Regions from separate parts of the Homo sapiens genome. Here region 1 is linked to region 2. Evidence: fine-mapped expression QTL. A gene starts in region 2. The other region holds a variant in brackets. All regions are shown on one strand. Distances are between the middles of the regions.

The links. PIP is the estimated chance that this variant, and not a neighbour inherited with it, causes the effect. A credible set is the group of variants that fine-mapping cannot tell apart.
Region 1: its variant is the best candidate, but not a certain one, in a credible set for the expression of LINC02897 in substantia nigra (GTEx, PIP 0.76).

The regions. Positions count from the first base shown.
Region 1 is chr1:247,142,932-247,148,302 of GRCh38, reverse strand. It overlaps a transcript of ZNF124 not described here. Among named protein-coding and RNA genes, the nearest start is that of ZNF124, 26 kb to the left of the region's middle. The variant G/A (reference allele first, on the strand shown) is at 2,814.
Region 2 is chr1:247,109,197-247,114,567 of GRCh38, reverse strand. LINC02897 (long intergenic non-protein coding RNA 2897) reads left to right here and starts at 2,151. Exons shown (of 1, transcript NR_167894.1): 1 at 2,151-4,413. FLJ39095 (a long non-coding RNA gene) reads right to left here. Exons shown (of 3, transcript NR_147502.1): 3 at 5,007-5,371.

The DNA of each region.
Region 1 (5,371 bases), 34 kb before region 2:
GCTTATGAGAAGGCTTCCTGGAACAAGTAGCAAATTCTCTTACCCAAATGAGAGTTGAGTAAGAGTAAGATCCCTCCACTCGCCAACCTGTTAGCGAGGTTGTTGTGTGAGAGGGAGAATTGAAAGGAGCAGTCTAAATGTGCTCATATGTTCATTCTCCTAGCCAAAGTAGGAAAGAATGAGGAGTCCACAAAGCTGATAGAGCACTTTGGATAAATAGAAAATACTGTAAGTTCTTGTGGTTTTGCTGAAAGCAGTCAACAGGCTGCTAGAAACTAAAAGGAAATGTGGGTGTTGGTGCCTTGCTTATAAGCAGAGAATCTCTCTCTCTCTATGTACTCGCTGATACCAAAACTTCACTGACAGGGCTTGGGCAGGGTTCACCATGAAAGCAGAAATGTCACAAAACAATGGAGGTGGGGCCTTTGGGGCTAACTCAATGTCTTCTTGTGTTTCTACACCAAAATTTACAGTTAGAATTTTGTTGTATGTGTTTGTGCTTCCCTGTCCCCTAAGTGCCGGAGGGGATTATTCCAGTCTGGGTGGGAGACAGGTAGAAGAGTGTGAGAGAGACAGAATTCTCCATTTGCCACAGAGGGCAGGTCAGTCTTTATCATGAGAACCTTTACACTCTGATATGCAAAATGTTCACCCTGCATGAGCTGTTAGCTGCAAAGACAGAGGTGTCTGTCTCAGTGCTCCTGTCTAGAATAGTAATATCTCTCTGCTAGTAGATGTAGCTGATAATTGAGACTGTGCTTCAAAAAGTTAAAGAAGCAGCCAGGCGCAGTGGCTCACGCCTGTAATCTCAGCACTTTGGGAGGCCGAGCCGTGTGGATCACGAGGTCAGGAGTTCGAGACCAGCCTGGCCAATATGGTGAAACCCCATCTCTAATAAAAATACAAAAATTAGCCAGGCATGGTGGTGCATGCCTGTAATCCCAGCTACTCTGGAGGCTGAGGCAGGAGAATGGCTTGAACCCAGGAAGCGGAGGTTGCAGTGGGCTGAGATCGTGCCACTGGACTCCAGCCTGGGCAACAGAGCAAGACCCCGACTCAAAAAAAAAAAAAAAAGTTAAGCCAATGACTAACAGAAATCCTTGAGTTTACAGGATGGCAAATTAAAAAAAAAAAAAACTTGCTAAAACACTGAAATTCCCTCCACTTACGAGATAAAAGTAATTAGCTGAAATTGGTTTAAACCAATAGAACCAATGGGACTCTGCACAGAATGAGCTTGCTGACATCATAGCCTGAATTTCCACTATGTTTCCTACTAACTCCCCCCAAATTTGCACATATGACCCATGAGGAAGCATGAAGAGATAACTGGGCATGCCCATGGACATTCCAGACCTCCCATTATCATCCGCTAGTCACCTCCTAACCTCAGAAGCTACCCCCCGGTACCTGTTCTAGTAGAAATTCTGCCTTGATGCCAGCAGAGGGAGACAGATTCGGGCTTGGGACTCCTGTCTCTTTGGGAGTGAACTTTCAACATAAAGCTTGTCTCAAAAACAAAAATCCAGTGACAACTCAATGTATTGGCTCTTAGCACATTGGATAGTAAGCACTGTTTTCTCAATAACAAGAAGACCTGAAAAAAACCCAGAGTTCTGCTTTCCAAATAAGGTTTAGTGAAGCTAAGTGGACATATTTTCATTGCTTAATTCTTCCAGCAGTCAAGAAAAACTTGATCACTTTGCCATTTGAGGCCTTTGACAAAAAGAGCCTGCACCTAAAGATATTCTTTGGGGTGTCTGACTCATAGCCACCCTGACACCACTGCAGGTTACACTAATGTGAAAGTCAGTTATAAGCTTGCTACAGAACTCCAGTCAAACTGAATCCAAACTCAAGGAGGGCTGGGGGCTGCCTAGCTTTGTATTCCAATTTTGAGGTGGGTCAATTTGAACTCTTATGAAAGACCTCAAAAGACTACTTGTTAAATATAAATAATGTATTCTAGAAGGAAATTGGACTGGCACAGAAATAGTTCTAAAGGGAAAATCGGAATCTATCTTTGGTGGAAATTTTATGCCCTGCTGCACTATATGAAGCAAAGCTTCTGGCTCTATGGGGCCCCCACTTCACTAAGTATTCCCTAAATTTCTGTCCCTGCTTTACCAATACATGGTGTTCACTGAGCTACTGTCTATGGTGGCTTCTGAACTTCAGTGTCAGCCATGCGGAACCTGAGTGGGGTGGTCACACCACTCAATGGTCAGAACTCAGGGTCATTGCTCACATTATAGCTGTTTGGTCTTTTGCATTAAAAACTATAGACTGTCTGAAAAAAGGAAACCTTTCAGGCTGCAAACTGGAAATAACCTCAGCAGCTGATTTACTGCTGTGTCCAGTCACTCAATTACAAGTCTTTGGCCGGGCGCAGTGGCTCACGCCTGTAATCCCAGCACTTTGGGAGGCTGAGGCTGGTGGATCACCTGAGGTCAGGAGTTTGAGTTGGCCAACATGGTGAAACCCTGTCTCTTCTAAAAATACAAAAATTAGCCAAGCATGGTGGTAGGCGCCTGTAATCCCAGCTACTCGGGAGGCTGAAGCAGGAGAATCGCTTGAACCCAGGAGACAGAGGTTGCACTGTGCCGAGAATGCACCACTGCACTCCAGCTTGGGCGACAGGAGTGAAACTCCGTCAAAAAAAAAAAAAACAGAAGTTTTTAATAAGAGCCTGTTCTCTGAAGAGACTGACTATAACCAGGCTGTGGATTGAATCTGAATCCATGTCTAATGCTGAGGGCAGCACTGCAGCCAGACTTGTGGTTCTTGGTGAAAGGTGATCTTTTTGTCTCACA[G/A]TGTGGGAGGCCCCCGACCGTTCTCAATAGAATGACTTCACCGACCTTTTGACTCACTTTGGAAGGTATTGTTAATACCTTGTCACTGCTCACACCATCAACATAAAAACTGACTCCAGACACACCATGTGTCCCTTGAAACTAATCTCTGTCACCTTTTCAAATTTCAGAACCATTTGCACTCTGACAACGTTGTGTCTTTTATCATCAAATCTACTAAAAATTGGCTGATTTTACCATCTTTTCCTTCTCCTGATCCATATGTTACAATTTGTTGACTGAATGTAATTCTTTCTAAAAAGGAATAATCTCTTTTTGACTGCCTCCAGGATAAGAATGAAATGGTTGAGAGCTGTAGAGATCTGTTTCCCAAATTTGAGATTCCACACTGACTACCTGAAAAGATGCATCTCACTGGCCAGGCGCAGTGGCCCACGCCTGTAATCCCAGCACTTTGGGAGGCCGAGGCGGGTGGATCACAAGGTCAGGAGTTCGAGACCGGCCTGGCCAATATGGTGAAACCCCGGTTCTACTAAAAATACAAAAATTAGCCAGGCATGGTGGCGAACGCCTGTAGTCCCAGCTACTCAGGAGGCTGAGGCAGGAGAATTGCTTGAACCTGGGAGGCGGAGGTTGCATTGAGCTGAGATCGGGCCACTGCACTCCAGCCTGGGAGACAGAGCGAGACTCTGTCTCAAAAAAAAAAAAAGAAAGAAAGAAAAGATAATCTTCCTTTCCGCTAAATGCAACCCTAGCTTAGTTTGTACTAGACTAGGGTTTAGAGCTAGTCTTTTGCGGGCTTTCAGAGAGTTCAAATTGACCCACCTCAAAAGTGGAATATAAAGCCACACAGCCCTCAGTCCTCCTTGGGTTAGGATTCAGCTTGACAGGAGCTCTGTAGCAAGCTTTTAGCTGACACCCACCTCAAAAGTGGAATATAAAGCTACGCAGCCCTCAGTCCTCCTTGGGTTAGGATTCAGCTTGACAGGGGCTCGGTAGCAAGCTTTTAGCTGACTTTCACATCAGCTCTAAACCCTAGCTTTCCCCTAACTGCCCCAAGCCTAGTTTGTAGTAGGCTGAGTGGCAACCTAGCCCAAAGTGGGATTATGATACTCCAACTTAGTTGTGGTTGAGTTTTATGTAAACATTTTTGTCGCTATTTCATCTGGCTTTTCTAGATAAAATGTCTAGGAGAAGGTAGGGAGTGACCAGAATAAAGGTGAAATTCTTGGTGCTGAATGAGATACACTAATTTTGTGGATGTAGTTGGGGAGGGATAGCTACCCGAAACCCGCAGAGTAAACAACTGAGACCTCAGGAGATATGGAGAATGGAAGGGCATTAATAACTTTTTGTCTTTCTGAATCACCCTTAGTGAGGGCCAAAGAAAAATCTGGAAATCATGTTGGGAAAGGACAGGGTTAGTATTGGAGCAGATGGTAGGGCAGATGCTGTGGGTTCATATCCTTTTGGTCTCTCCACATCACCCTTCACGGTCCTTTGGGATTGTTCTATCTCTCTCTGTGATGTGGATGTGGAGTTTTATTGAGCATGCATGCTTACTGCCTAGCTGTCTGAGGCTACGGGGGTAGATGATGGAGAACTGTTACTTTTTTTTCTGAGAGACTTAGTATCTCATGGCTGAGCTTAAGCTGGATCTATGGAGCACTGATCCCATTGTCTACTTCTGTGAGCTAGTGCTCCTCCATCTAGTTTCTACCATCTAGAGACGAATCTTATCAATACTTGGGTAAACCAAAGACATAAGTCAGGTAAGGGAATCCTAGACATAGCCCGACTCTTGCCTTTTTCCTCTTCTCACTTTAAATCTTGTTGGCTCAGAGAGTTACCCTCAGATGGAGTCTCTCAGGAGTAATTAGAACATTGTACTTCTAGAGAAGCTGGTGGAACAGGGTAGGGTTCCCAGTTCAAAGCTTCTGTCAAAAACTTCCAGTCTGTGTGTAGTAAATAAATCTAGAAACGATCCTAGAGCTCTGGATGGATCATTAAGAGAGGGCAGGATTTCTGTAGATCAGAATACCAGGACACATGTTCATCCGTCACCTTCCGGGGTCAAATTCTCGGTTAAGCCTGTGTGGTAGGGCTGTAGAGCAGTGTGTGCCTGGGAAAGCCTCTGATCACACATTTCCTCAGGGATTTTTTAGGCCTGATGTCCCTTTGAATTTACTTTAACAATCCTTTTGTAATTTTATTTTTTACATCAATTGTAACTTAGTATTATTATATATATAGGCATTTGGGTGTGTCTTGAAGGCATGTCCTGGTTTCAAACTGATTTGTGGTATATTATTGAATTAGGCCCATTTACTGGAATTATAAACTGCTATCCAACTACACAAAGAGCTGAGGATTCTGGGGAGGTCAGGATGGAGATGAAATAGAAGTGAGGAGAAAATAGCTCTCTCTCTCACATGCAGATTCTTTATGGATAAAATGCATAATTACCTAAAATTTAAAATACTCAAAAAATTATCTAATCAGTATGTAATGGAAATTATAGAGCAAAGAACAAAACAAACACCAAAATAATTTTCTTT
Region 2 (5,371 bases):
GGCAGCTGCAGTGCAGGAGAGGGTGCGAGTGGGCGGGGGCCCCGAGGCAGCCCACGCCCCAGTGCCTGCTGCTTCTCAGCCCAGAGAAGGGACTTTCACCCCAAGGGCCCAGTCTCTGACTCGCCCCAGGAGGACCCTAGGTGCCCCTCACAGATGGAAATGGGGTCCCTCAGGCAGCACCTCCTGGGAGTCCTCTCCTCTCCACCAATGACAAGCAAGACCTTCAGGGTAGAGTTGTGGCAGCCACACCTCCAGAGACCCCTTGGCTGCTCCTGGACCACACAGCTGCTCAGGGAACTTTAACCTCTGGCCCCCTCCACACAGCCTGGTATGACCCCTGCAGGCACTCACCTGTCACTCGCACACAGAAGGGCACAGTACACACAACCTGGGTGAGCCGCTGCCAGCAGCTATTGGCCTCAGCGTTCTCTCGAAGGCATTGAGCACCAGCAGCCACCGCTGCTGAACATCAGGATGCAGTTCAGGACACCAGCCCTGCCCCAACCTTGACCCAGACAGGGGGTGTCATGGGACCACTGCTGGGTGGGTGGCAGCTCAGCTCCAAGGTGTCCCCATTGGTTAAGAGTAAATATTCCTACTGGCCAGAATCAGGCACTGGGATCTCTGCCAGGGAGATGGTCAACTGTGATGCAGGGACCCCAAAACCTGGCACTCCAGGACTCAACACCCCCATAGGGAGGCCCCATGGCACCCCCACTTTACAGGCACACCAGCAGAGGCCACTGGAGCCCTGAGTGAGGAAGGAGCCAGCCCAGAGCCTGGGGTCTCAGCAGACAGTGCTCAAAACCAGGCATGGGCTGGAAACTCCCTAAAGAGCCGAGGGTCAATATTTTCAACTTTGTCAATGCATCCGTCTCAAGGACGGGGCCCTGCAGTTGCAGCGTGACCGCAGCCTTCCACAGACAACATGTGAATGAACAGGCAAGGCTACACTCCCAGAAAACTTTACTATGGACATGGAAACTTCTAATTGGAAAGTGTCATAAAGTGTTCTTCTTCTTTTGATTTTTTTTTTTCCCATCACACACATCAGAGAACAAAACTGCTGTGCCAGGATAGGGTGAAAATGTTCCCCTCCTGCTGTGGGTCCCACAGCACCTGCTCCTGCCAGCACCCCCACCCCACAAGGTGCTGACCCAACCAGGGTGCCACATGCCAAGAACCGCCCAAAGGCTGTGGCAACCTGGAAGTGCTGTTCAGCGCCTGGGCATGTTTCCCGGTCACAGTCTCCCTGACTTTGCTGGTCACTGGCCCTGTGCCTGTTTTTCCCACTGTGGCAAAAGGTGATCTCACCCCGAAGGCAGGAGGGTCTGACAGTAGAGGGCGGAGATATTTCCTGTCCTGGGTCTCCTGCCCAGAGATCACTGTTCATCAGGCCATGGCTAGGCCAGTCTGCTGGGGGAACTGTGTTCCCTGTCCCCTGCCTTGGGAGTCTAGTGGCCAGATCCAGGTTGTTACAGTTAAGAGCCCCCAGTGTACTGGGGGAAGCCCCGGGGGGAGGGGGTGGGGATGGAGGTGGAATGATGCTCCATCAAAAGGGCCCTGGGGTGGGTCCCAGAGAACAAACATCAAATTGAGGCCCTTTTCTGAAGCTGGCTGCCCAAGGAATTTGCGTTTTGGAGTAAGATGAGAACATGGGGTCAGGGAAGAAAGCATTTTGGTTTTGGAAATGCACAAAGTTCTCTGAGGCTCTCTGAGGTCCAGATGTTTCGCTAGGTATGTGCTTTAAAAGGGCCCAGGAGGAGTGGGGGCGCCCAGAAGGGACAATGCAGCCAGGGGCCAAGGTCTGGCCTGCCTGCCTCCCCACCTACAGGCATTCCAGAGTTTCGTACAAAGTCAGAAAGATGTGCGGCCAAGGAGGGCTAATGCGAGTTTATTTGGATTGTCCAGTTTAATCGTCAAAACACCCCTGACATACGGGTCCTTCCTGGCAGGTGAGGAAACTGAGGTTCGAGTAGGGCATCCAGAGCTGGGGCGGGCAGTTGGCAGCCTGCAGCCCCTGAGGTCCCGGCAGATCTTCCCTGGCCCCCAGCCAGGCACGCTGCACACTCCAGCTCATTCACCTGCCAATCACCTGTCCAGGACTCAGGCCGGCGGGGCCTCCCGTCCTCCCGCCAGCCCCCTTGCTCATCGCTGGGGCCTCCCTGCGAGGCTGTCAGCGGCCGAGGTGGGGGCCCTTGCCGGGGTGAGGAGCCGATCGTCCACCGGATCAGGCCCCCTGCAGCAGCCCGCCTGGAGCCCGAGCATGGCCGGGCGGGGAAGGGGCGGCGGCACCGGAATTGCTCCGCCCAGCTAAGGCCGGGGCCGTGGCTCCTGTGCAAGATGGGCCTGTGCACCCTCCAGCCCCTGGGCCCTCCTCGAAAATCCTCCACATCCTGCGGGACCTGGACCGCCAGCGGCCTCCCAAGCCTGGGCCATTTGCCCCGTCGCCTCCGCCTGGCATTCGACTTCTTAGAACCGCGGGCACGAGGGCAGCGTGGGGGCAGTGGTGGCTGTCAGTCCACGCGGGCCGCCGAGAGGACGCGCCCACCCCACCCTCCAAACGCCGTCCTCCTGCTTCAGCCAGAGCCGTCCCTGACATGGGCCCAGGGACGCGGCTGCAGAGGCCACTTCCGGTCACTCCCCGCTGCGGCCTCGCGCTCCGGGAGCCGCACCCTCCGCTGCGCCAGCTCCGACCGCAGTCTTCGGGAGCAGAAGCAGCGCCGCGCGGGCCCTGACCCCACACCCTCCCCGGCGCCTCCGCCTGCAGGACCCCGGCCCTCCCCGGGCTCGCTGGGTCCCTCCGCCCCGGCCGCTCCCCGCACCGCGCGCGGTGCCTACGAGCTCCAAGGCGGCGCCAGCCAAGACGGTCCCGGCCAAGCGGCGGTGGGTGCGACCCCCACCACGGGCCCCGGCACCGGCGGGGAGGGCGCGCTCCTAGGCTGCGGGAGCGGACGGACCCCTCCGACTTCGGCCACCTGGCGCCGCCGCCTCCTCCCCGCCGAAGTCCCTCCCGGGGCAGCCGCCGCAAACTTTCCGGAGCGGGAGCGACTGTGAACCCGAGTCCTCCCGGCGCCCCGGGCCCTTCGCGCGCCTGCCGGTCCCCGTAGCCCGGCCCTGCGCCCGCCCGGGCCCCACTACTGCGGCCGAGCGATCCGGCGTGACCGCGGGACCCACAGGGCGCCCCTGCCCCGCGGCTCTCTCCACCCCCGCGCGCTGGGGCTGCGGCGCCGTGTCTGGCGCGAGGCTGGGGGCCGAGGGTGCGTAGTCGGGGGAGACAGCCGGTCCTAGGGGGCCCTTTGGCCGGGCGCGGGGGCTCACGCCTGTAATCCCAACCACTGGGGAGACTGAAGCGGGAGGAGCGCTTCAGTGCAGGAGTTCGAGAGCTGGTGGGGAAACCAGCCCCACACCACCCGGCGGGTACCCCGAGTCCGGCGCAGACAAAGGATTTAGAAAGAGAATCACAGTTTAACCGGCGGGTCCAGGGGACCAGGGCGTCGGAGGCTTGCTCGCGGCCCCGAGCTCTCGGCCTCCACCCAATTTATTGGTTTACCAGCTCTTCGTTCTTAGGGCAAATGGGAGGGGTGAGAAGGGATGAGGAAAAGGATTAATCAATGAAGGAGAACTCGTGACTCATTTAATAAGATGTGTAGCCGTGGCGGTTTCTGTGAATTTCCTCTAGCAAAGGCGTGTGTCTAAACTATTTAAGATCTTTACCTTATCCGGACTGAAATGCGTGGGAGCGGGTTTCAGGAGCAGCCAAGATGTTTGATTGTACTCCACTGCTTCAAGGGAGTGTTATCTCCGCCAGCACCTGTGGCATGCGTAAAGACATGAAGGCAAAAAGGAGACTTTTCTCCTCAGAGGCCGCCCATGGCTTCCCATGGATGTCTCACGCAGGGGGGACCAACTCATCTGGCATTCCAGAAACTCTCTTTCCCACATATGTCCCCCTTTTTTTGTCTCTATTAATTTTTTTTTTTTGAGATGGAGTCTCGCTCTGTCGCCCAGGCTGGAGTGCGGTGGCGCGATCTCGGCTCACTGCAAGCTCCGCCTCCCGGGTTCACGCCATTCTCCTGCCTCAGCCTCCCGAGTAGCTGGGACTACAGGCACCCGCCACCGCGCCCGGCTAATTTTTTGTAATTTTAGTAGAGACGGGGTTTCACCGTGTTAGCCAGGATGGTCTCGATCTCCTCAACTTGCGATCCGTCCGCCTCGGCCTCCCAAAGTGCTGGGATTACAGGCGTGAGCCACTGCGCCCGACTCTATTAATTTTTTTTTTATTAATAACCGCCATTGCTATTTCGTTCACTGTGTCTGGCTTCTCTACCAAGGCGCCGTCGGCATCTGTAGACTAAAAATAAACAGCATAAACAGACACAAACCAAAATAAAATTTGCAATTGTTGATCCACCTATGGTTTTAATCCACTTTAAAGGATTAGTGTTAGAAAGGCCATCAGCGGCTCCAGTAAGAATATCAGCTCCAGGCAACAGGCTGAGATGAGCCTGAGATGCCTCAAAAAGCTGTCTTTTCGGTTTAGCAATATCTAATGTTAAATTATCTTCTTTTCCTTGTAGGTGACGTCTAATCATCTCCCAATCGTGTTCAGTGGCATTGTAAGAGCTAGGAGTAATACAAAACTCAGAAGTATTCCAATCACATTGCATTTGAATTCTATGCTCCAAGCTCATAATCCGATCTCCCATCCAAATTACTGTTTGACGGAGATCATTAATTTGATTTGCCAATTTTTGATCTATTTGGCTTTGGGAATTCCAAAGCTTAGAATAATTTTTCTGCCAACTACCCACAAAGTCCGCAGTTTGAATAGAAGAGTGCAAAGCAACACCAGCAAGGCCCAGGACCACAGCTATTAAAGTAAATAGGAATCTCTTTGATCTATTAAGTATTCCTTTTAGTACTTCAGTGATAATATGTATGGAGGGACAGGCCTCCCAAGGTCTATTGAGGAAAACAGGTATCCAAACTCCTTCTCGGGCCCTAACCAGTAAAATGCTATTATCTTTATTAAAGGCAGAAATAATGCAGGTAAAAAGACGACAGTTGAGGCATGATATGGTTTGAGAGTCAGGTAAGATATTAATTTTTCCCACTGCCAACATAAAAGGAGGTTTAACACAACTCTGCAATGGGACCATCTGATTAGAGGTCATGGCTACAACAAATCGAAGTTTTTTACTATGGGTCTCTGTTTTACATTCTGCTTTCCAAATCCGAATTGGGCTTTGAGCCATCATTAATTTCCACAATTCTGGATGTTCTGGGCTTATAATTGGATCAATAATTTTTGGGCTTGGAGGAGCCATACCGTTCTCCTCCCACTTAATAGGGTAATTTGTTTCAATTC